Regions from separate parts of the Homo sapiens genome. Here all the other regions are linked to region 2. The links come from fine-mapping of genetic effects on gene expression. A gene starts in region 2. Each other region holds a variant in brackets. All regions are shown on one strand. Distances are from middle to middle.

Region 1 (2,764 bases), 310 kb before region 2:
GGGGAAGGGGAAGGGAGAAAGAAAAAGGGAGAGAGAGAGAGAGAGAGAGGAAGGAAGGGGAAGGGGAAGGGAGAAAGAGAAAAAGAAAGAAAAAGGAAAGGAAGGAAGGAAAAGAAAGAGGGAGGAAGGAAGGAAAAGAAAGGATGGAAGGAAAGAAAGAAGAAAGAAAAGAAAAGGAAAGAAAAGAAAAAAGATGAAGAAAGAAAAAAGAGAGAGAGAGAAAGAAAGAGGAAGGAAGAGAGGATTTGCTGTGGTGGTTGGGAGGGGACTCCTTCATGGAGATGGAGAAGGAGCAGGCAGAATATTGGCACTCAGAGCTCTTGTCATAGCATAAGTTAGAGGGCCCCACGGCAACCTGATGACAGCTAAAGGCAGGTCCCTCTTCTTGCTGTGACCCAGGGCACCGTCCTTATTCAGACTGAACTGAATCTGCAGCCTGTGTGTGCTCTCTAGACCCACCTTGACACTTGGTTTGGGGAAGGCTTTCTCCTCCAAGGCTCTGGTTTGTCCCCAGTTTGTGCCACTGAGTTTCAGTCCCCTTCAACTGTGCCTGAAGGCTAGAATTTATGCCCCAGGGGGCAGGGGCCAGGGAGGGTGTCCTCAGCCTGTTCTTTACTTGACAGCCTGCATCTGCCCCTATTTACATCCTCTGCAGTGCTGAACCTGCTTTCTGTGTTCATTCATTCTTTCCAAGCTCCACATGTGGCAGAAGGGTCTGGACTGGGATCAAGAGAGGCCGGCTAGGTTCTCAGCTCCATGATAGGCAAACCCCAGTTAGTATGGAGCTCGGCTTCCTCACTCACCCAGCTTCATTTGGATTCAGACCCGGGTTAAATACCTGCTGTGTGACCTGGTGTGTTAGCCAAAGTTGCTCAACCTTCATCTCCCCATTCGTAAAATGGGGGAAAGAATACCAACCTTGCAGGGTGCTGTGGGCATCAGAGATCATTACTCACAGTGCCCAGCACTGCGCAGACATTCATTAGCCAGCAATTGTTATCTACGATTGTCCTCAAACCCCCTTCCTATTCTGAGAGAGATGCTGGGTCACAGGCTCCCATTCTTCAGGCTGGCATTTCAGTTCCATCTGGAAGATGAGTAGAGGCAGCCCTGAGGAACCTGCTAGGGGCTCAGAGGCACAGATGATGGCCAGATGTCACTCCTCCACTCCTATTCTTGGACCCTGGCCTGGGGTAGCTTGGCCTTCACCTTCCGGCTTCTCTGCGCAGCACT[C/T]ACGGCCCTTCATGTTTGCACGTGTGCCCTCTGCTCCCTCTGCCTACATGAAGCAGAATGGAGGGTGGACTTTAGGTCTTCCTCCCAGTGCAAACCTTCTCCTGTGAGACAGACTGCAAAGGGCCGAGGATAATCTGTGCTTGGTGACGTGAACTCATTCTCTAAGCTGAGGCCCTAACCTTTTGTTGTCATGGGCTCCACCAAGAAGCTGAGGATGAATGCTCAGAAATCTCCACTGTAACCAAGTTCTGCACAAAAATCTGCTGAGGTTTTGCATAGATTCTCCAGGGGCTCATGACCACAAGTTCAGACACCTGAGCTCTGGTCCCTCCTCGTGTGTGTGCGGCAGCCTCTCCCAGGGTCTTGGTGCTCGCCTGCTCTCTGGAAGATTAACAAAGTCAGGGTGTTGGTTTTTCCAAGGGCTGAGTTGCTGCGGTTGGAAGTACTGAGGGTGACCTGTACGACCCTCCTCTCAGGTAGGGAGGACTGGGGGTCCTCGGCCACCCAAGAGGCTCCTGAAGAGGGCACCCTGAGGTGCCGGCATGTTCTGGACATCATCATTCATTGGGAGAATCTGACCAAATATGTCATTATATTACATATGAGAACATTATAATCAGCACATTCTCAGCAAAAATGTTCACTTCTTTAACACTATTTTCTTCACACTATTGAGCTCTCATGCAAGTAGAGTTCGCCATTGATACTGTTTGCTGGATGATAATTAAGGATGACTTCCTACATTGTTCCCCAAACCTAGTGAACCATCAGAACCACCTGGGAAGCTAATACAGACTATTCAGCCCCATGCCAAACTTATTGAACTTGGATCTTCTTTGGAGAGGCCCAAAAAACTGTACTTTTAAAATAAGTGTCATCAGTGAACCTAATGATTAACTAAGATTAGGAAACAAGGACTTAATATTGAGTAACATTTAACCTTCCTAAAGAAGGCTTTTTTTTTTTTTTTTTTTTTTTTGGAGACAGGGTCTCACTGTGTCACCCAAGCTGGAGTACAGTGGCATGATCATGACTCGTTGCAAGCTCAAGCCCAACCTCCTGGGCTCAAGTGATCCTCCCACCTCAGCCTCTCAAGCAGCTGGGACTACAGATACACATCACCATGCCTGGCTAATTTTTTTTTTTTTTTTTTTTGAGATGGAGTTTTGCTCTTGTTGCCCAAGCTGGAGTGCAATGGTGCCATCTCGGCTCACTGCAACCTCTACCTCCCAGGTCCAAGCCATTCTCTTGTCTCAGCCTCCCAATTAGCTCGGATTACATGCATGTGCCACCACACCCAGCTAATTTTTTTGTATTTAGTAGAGACAGGGTTTCACCATGTTAGTCAGGCTGGTCGTGAACTCCTGACTTCAGGTGATCCACCCGCCTTAGCCTCCCAAAGTGCTGGGATTACAGGGAGGCAGGGCTGGCTACTTTTTTTTTTTTTTTTTTTTTGATTTTGTAGAGACAGGGTCTCCCTATGTTGCCCAGGCTGGTCTCAAACTCCTGGGCTCAAGTGATCCTCCAGCCT
Region 2 (2,764 bases):
GGGTCGGGGACAAGCCTAAGCCTAGTGCACCCCTTCAGGGAAGGCCAGCTAGAGACCTTAAGCCTGGGGCTGGAATGGGGGAGGAAGACTTTTTGAAGTTTGATGCATTTGTTTATATCTTGCACCCAACATTATAGTTTTGAAATGAAGCTGTGGTTGAGATTTAGTTACAACAAGACTGTCAGTTATCTAAGAATGAGCAGAAAAATCCAGGGCTGTTTCGGGTCCTAAAATTATCCAATCAACGAATAGGTATTTATTTTCTGTTATGTTTGAAATCCTCTTGAGTATTTTGAAGAATATTTACATTCCTTTAGTTCAGGTTAGTATAATTTCCCACCTGGCACGATGCCTTACACATAGTATGTGCTCAAAAATATTTTCAATTTAATTATTCTTTACAAGATGCTTAGCACCAAGGGAAGTGGCATTTTCCCAGTGTTGATGACAAATAGCACTTCAGCTGGAAAATCTCCATATTTATAAAACGTGGTGCAAACCTGAATGGAGAGTGCTTATGATCTCACTTTTATTTAACACTGTACAGTGTTGCTAAATGGTCTAACAGGAGAAAAGGGAATTTAAACTAGAAACACATAAATGGAGTGCTTTTTGCCGTTCAACTGTGATGATGCACGAACAAAAAACGATTGGCCACGGGAGACCTAGACTGGAATCTCCTTCTCCTGCTCACTACACCTCAGGCCCCCAGTTCCTCTCCTGTGGATGGGGACGCCAGGCTGCCTACCTCAGACTCAGAAGGTACGATTACGTGCATACACTCTGCGAACTGAAGGGCTGTACAAATGCAAGGGCTTAATAACAGCCAACAGTTTAATATTCGTTGATTGCCACGTGCATAGCGCTTTACATCTATTTTCTCATGCAGTCTTCATAACAGCCCAAGACCTACCTAGGTACTATTATTAATATTTCCTGCCACTTGACATCGGAGGAAACAGAAGCTCAGCAAGTGGCTCCAGGTTATACAGAGCCCTAACCTGAGCCAGTAAATCCTTCTTACCCACAAGCATTAAGCTTCCGTCCTGCCTGCTGTTATTTAACAGAGGTGCTGGGATCCGGCAGGGGAGCAACAAATGTGGTTCGGCAAATTGCTAAACGAAAAGCGGACACCCGCCCACGACGCCTGCTCTGATCTGACCTCCCGGCCTACAGCCCTCTCCAGGCTCCTCCCACCCGCTCCGGCCGTCGCCACGCCTCGGAGCTTCTACGCATGCGTTGGCGGGACCCGCGCAGGCCCAGTGGCCGAGCGGCGTCGTGGGGTTACCCCGCCCGCGCCAGCGCTGCATCCCTGGCCGCTACCCGGGGAGAGCCGGAGGATGAATTGAACCTCGCAGCCGCTGCTATCTCCAGTGCTCATCACAGGTGCTTTGGGTCAGGTCGGAAGCCTCCTTCCCTGAGCCCTCGCCAAGCTCATTCCCCGGCCCGCCTCTCCCGCCCTGCAGCGGCCTGGCCCTGCGGTCTGGCTGCCGGGGCGGCGGCGGGAGGTAGTTTGTGTACGGTTACCATGGAGACGCTGGCTGCGGGGCGAAGTGGGAGGGTGGCCGGGCGGGGTGAGGATGCTGCTGCGCCCTGCCCTGGCCGGGACCGTGGAGGAGCGGGCACTGCCGTGGGTGGGGGAGCCGCTGTCCGAGCGGGAGGTGAGGTGTCCCCAGCGGCTCCCCAGGGACCCTTCCTGCCGTCGTCCGCCTGTGTGTCCTCGGATGGGGTAGAGAGACGATGAGTGCCCTGTGCATGCTGTCAGGGGTCCGGAGCGGTTGTCTTTTATTTATGTACTGTCGCACTTAGCCAAGTGCGTGGTGCTTAATAAGAAGCCCAGTAATATTTGTTGAATGAGAGTGGTAGACTAAGGGGCTTTGTCTAGGCAGGCGGTGACCGGGCCAGAGTCATACAGTTTATATCTGGGCACTTCCAGGCAACAGGGCCTCAATAAATAAAAACGTATGTGTAACAATATTTAACATACTTTAAAATCATGGAGTGTATACATAATGCCTTTTGTGATCCATTCCCACAAGTAACACAACAGATCTTACGTCCCACCCTGATTTATAATAATTATACTTTAATTTGGTTGAAAAGCAAGCACCATTTATTATATTTATCCTGGTTTCTTAATCTATGGGATTCTGGTTGTTGATGTTGATTTGGCATAGCTGATATTCAATAAAATGCTTAATAAAAATTATCTGTTTTCATAAAGGCAAGTACCACCACCCACCTTTTAAAAGGAGAAGTACGTAATGTAAATGACGAGTTGATGGGTGCAGCAAACCAACATGGCACATGTATACCTATGTATCAAACCTGTACATTGTGCACATGTACCCTAGAACTTAAAGTATAATAATAAAAAAAAACTTATGTATAGAAACACTGAACAAACGTCATTCTCTCTTTTGCAATTTCTTTTTTTAAATGTAGTTTTTCATTCGTGGAAATGATTTTGCTGTATCCTTTTATCATGTAGCACTTGGGCAATAATTGTTAACATCTTTAAGGGCCATATTTTAAAATGTTAACATTTTTAAAGCACTGTGCTAACGCACTTTACATGTATTATATCATTTAATTCTTCAAACAATCCTATGGGGCAATTATTATTACTATCCACCTTTTATAGATGAGGAAACTGATGCTTAGAGATATTAGAGGCATTGCCTAAGGTCACATGGCTGTGAATTGTCAGCATTTAAACCCTTAGTCCAGCATCTAAGCACTTAACCACTGCCTCTTTGGATGC
Region 3 (2,764 bases), 53 kb before region 2:
TGGTACAGTGAAGGAGTTGGGGAGCTCGATCCATACCCGGGTGGGCTGGCACCAAGAGGAAAGTGGCCTTACCTTCACCACATGAACATGAGGCCTGGAAGTTTCAGAGGGCCGCCCTCTCTATGCTCAGAGATACCTGGACTCAGCTGATGTGTGAAAGCCATGCTTCGACTCCCCAGTCGAGTGTAACCCCTCTAGATAGACTGTCCAAAAGGCTACATACAATTCAGAACATTTAGCTTATCTTTACTTTAAATTGTATACTTACCTTACCAACTCCACTGGCATTAGGGATTCTTCTTGCTCACCATTCCTTCCTTTCTCTGTCTTCACATTTGCTGGGTGCTTTGGGGACAAAAGGAGGAAGGGGAGAAAGAGGAGGAAGCAGAGGAGAAACAATTCTCTTTGCTTGGGAAGTCTGCATTCCAGCCCTGGCAATGGGCTCTGTAACTGTGAAAGAACTGGAGAGTGACATGACAGGGTTTGGTAGCAAGTCGTTCCCTCCTTAGATAGCTCAGGCGGGACCAGGTGAACATCTCCAGACTCTTCCCCACACATTTGGCCTCTGCCTCACCTCTCCCTGATGGGGTTAATTCACTATGTCCCTACTCTGTGGCCTTCCCAGCCCATTACCCTACCTCTGTCACAGTCCTCCTTACTTTGCCACCTCATAGGGCCTTCCTGATAGAGCAGGAGGCCAAAGTCCTCTGACCAAGTTTGCAGAGTAAATTTGAGGTGAAATGAAATTCCACCTCCTAAGTTGACAGAAGGCACAGTCAGAACATTAAATTGGCTTTAGCACATAGAATAATTCTTATATATTTTGAGAGGTCTGGAAACGTTTGCTTATAAGCAAGTGTTTCAGAAAGACCTCCTTATATTTTGATATAGTGATTATAAAATAAAAATATTTCTAGTCCATCTTCTGTCCAGGGAGAGGTGCTTTTAGCTTTTAGAAGCAAGAGGAGCCACCTGGTTCTTCTCTTGGTCACCTTTCCTCTCGCCCACCACCTATATCAGGTGAGTCAATGCCATAAAGGATATTTACCTTTAAGATCAGAATAATTGATCTTTCCAAAGTGACCACCTCCTACTGCTAATTTATAGACCAAAGAAGGTATCTGAGATAAGTATTTATTCTATAAAACTTCTGAAGAATCTAGCTTAAACAGATATTTTTCCTTAAAATTATTTTTTGTAATACATGCACAAAGTCAGAGCATAAAAGAACATAACATTTATTTGTCAAAAACTCATTGAATAATATATATCAACAAAGTTGATTTAAATGT[G/GA]AAAAAAAAACCCAGTCATAACATTAAAACCTAGTTTTTCTCACTTCCCTGTCCCCTAGCCACCCTACCCCTCCCCAGAGATTACTGGATTACTGCCGTGATATTTTTTGAAGAGGGTGGCATATTGACTTCTAGAGATGTTCCCTGCGTGTATGCATTTATAATCTTTGTTGTTGTTGTTGTTTGTTGTTTGTTTGTTTTTGTTTGAGACGAAGTCTCGCTCTTGTCCCCCAGGCTGGAGTGTGATGGCGCAATCTCAGCTCACTGCAACCTCCGCCTCCCAGGTTCAAGCAATTCTCCTGCCTCAGCTTCCCAAGTAGCTGGGATTACAGATGCCTGCCACCACGCCCGGCTAATTTTTGTACTTTTAGTAGAGATGGGGTTTCACCATGTTGGCCAGGATGGTCTAGAACTCCTCACCTCAGGTGATCCACCTGCCTTAGCCTCCCAAAGTGCTGGGATTACAGGCATGAGCCACCGTGCCCGGCCGCATTTGTAATCTTTTTTAACAACCTGCACATGGCAGCATTTTGTACACTCAGTTCTTGCTTTTGTCTCCTACTACTGTATAATGGAGACGGTTCCATATCAGCACAGTCAGTGCTGCTTCATTCTTTTGATGGGCAACACAGTTCCCCCCGGCAAGGCTATAGCCTAATATCCATACCAGTTCTTTTCGATAACTTTTAAGCTATTTAAAATCCTTTGTTATTACGAACAATGCTTATGTATAAGCATATCTATAGAATAAACTCCTGTGAGTAGAACTACTAGGTCAAATGGTATATAGACTTTATAAAATAGTTTAAATACACAAAAAAGTATAAAAAATAATGTAACTAACAACGTACCCAGCATTATTACATCTCAACAAGGAAAATCACATTTCATTTAGGAAGCACTGAAGTGCGAGGTCACTGAAGTCATGAGTTATTGCTAATTTATTTGGAATAAGGGAGTTATCTAATTTTGCTTTGAAATCTGGAAGCCTGTACTCAAATGCTGCTAGGATTGTAAATGTATTCCATCTAGTGGGCTCAGCTGTGTCCAGAGTGGACTGGTTTTTCTAACCAATCACCTGCGTGTTCCTAAATTTAGTTCTTTGGTGTGTTTTGCCCTAATCAATGAGATATGCAGGCCTGGCCTGGCAAAAGGCCCGAATTAGCTCAAAGGTGACTGCTAAGATCATGTAGCCTATCCCAAGTATCCTGTCATACAAGTGACTTTACAGGGATTTGTTTTACTCCTTATTAGATGGAATGAGCTTTCAGTTTCATTCTTATCATTTAAGTGGATTGTGGTTTAATGTATTTGTAAAGGCATACCGTGTATCTATGCACATGTATTGTTTCCATTATGCTTTATCTCAGGCCTCATACCTTCTGCAAGGATTTTCATAATGTTTTTCTGAGTGGGAAGCCAGGAGTTCTCTCTGTGCCTCAACCCCTGCTCCCACTGCATTCATTCTCTTT

Alleles and levels. Alleles are on the strand shown, and positions count from the first base shown. SD is a standard deviation of normalised expression in the study named. Not every link is listed here.
With allele GA in place of G in region 3, the expression in NK cells of the gene that starts at base 1,262 in region 2 is higher (moderate effect, 0.70 SD a copy in Schmiedel 2018).

Evidence for each region. PIP is the estimated chance that this variant, and not a neighbour inherited with it, causes the effect. A credible set is the group of variants that fine-mapping cannot tell apart.
Region 1: its variant is the best candidate, but not a certain one, in a credible set for the expression of ARMC2 in caudate (GTEx, PIP 0.84).
Region 3: its variant is the best candidate, but not a certain one, in a credible set for the expression of ARMC2 in NK cells (Schmiedel 2018, PIP 0.63).

What each region holds. Positions count from the first base shown.
Region 1 is chr6:108,534,013-108,536,776 of GRCh38, forward strand. No RefSeq gene overlaps it. Among named protein-coding and RNA genes, the nearest start is that of FOXO3, 26 kb to the right of the region's middle. The variant C/T (reference allele first, on the strand shown) is at 1,234.
Region 2 is chr6:108,847,161-108,849,924 of GRCh38, forward strand. It overlaps ARMC2 (armadillo repeat containing 2), which reads left to right and starts at 1,262. Exons shown (of 18, transcript NM_032131.6): 1 at 1,262-1,386. RefSeq lists a silencer at 1,520-1,619.
Region 3 is chr6:108,794,651-108,797,414 of GRCh38, forward strand. No RefSeq gene overlaps it. Among named protein-coding and RNA genes, the nearest start is that of LINC00222, 44 kb to the left of the region's middle. The variant G/GA (reference allele first, on the strand shown) is at 1,293.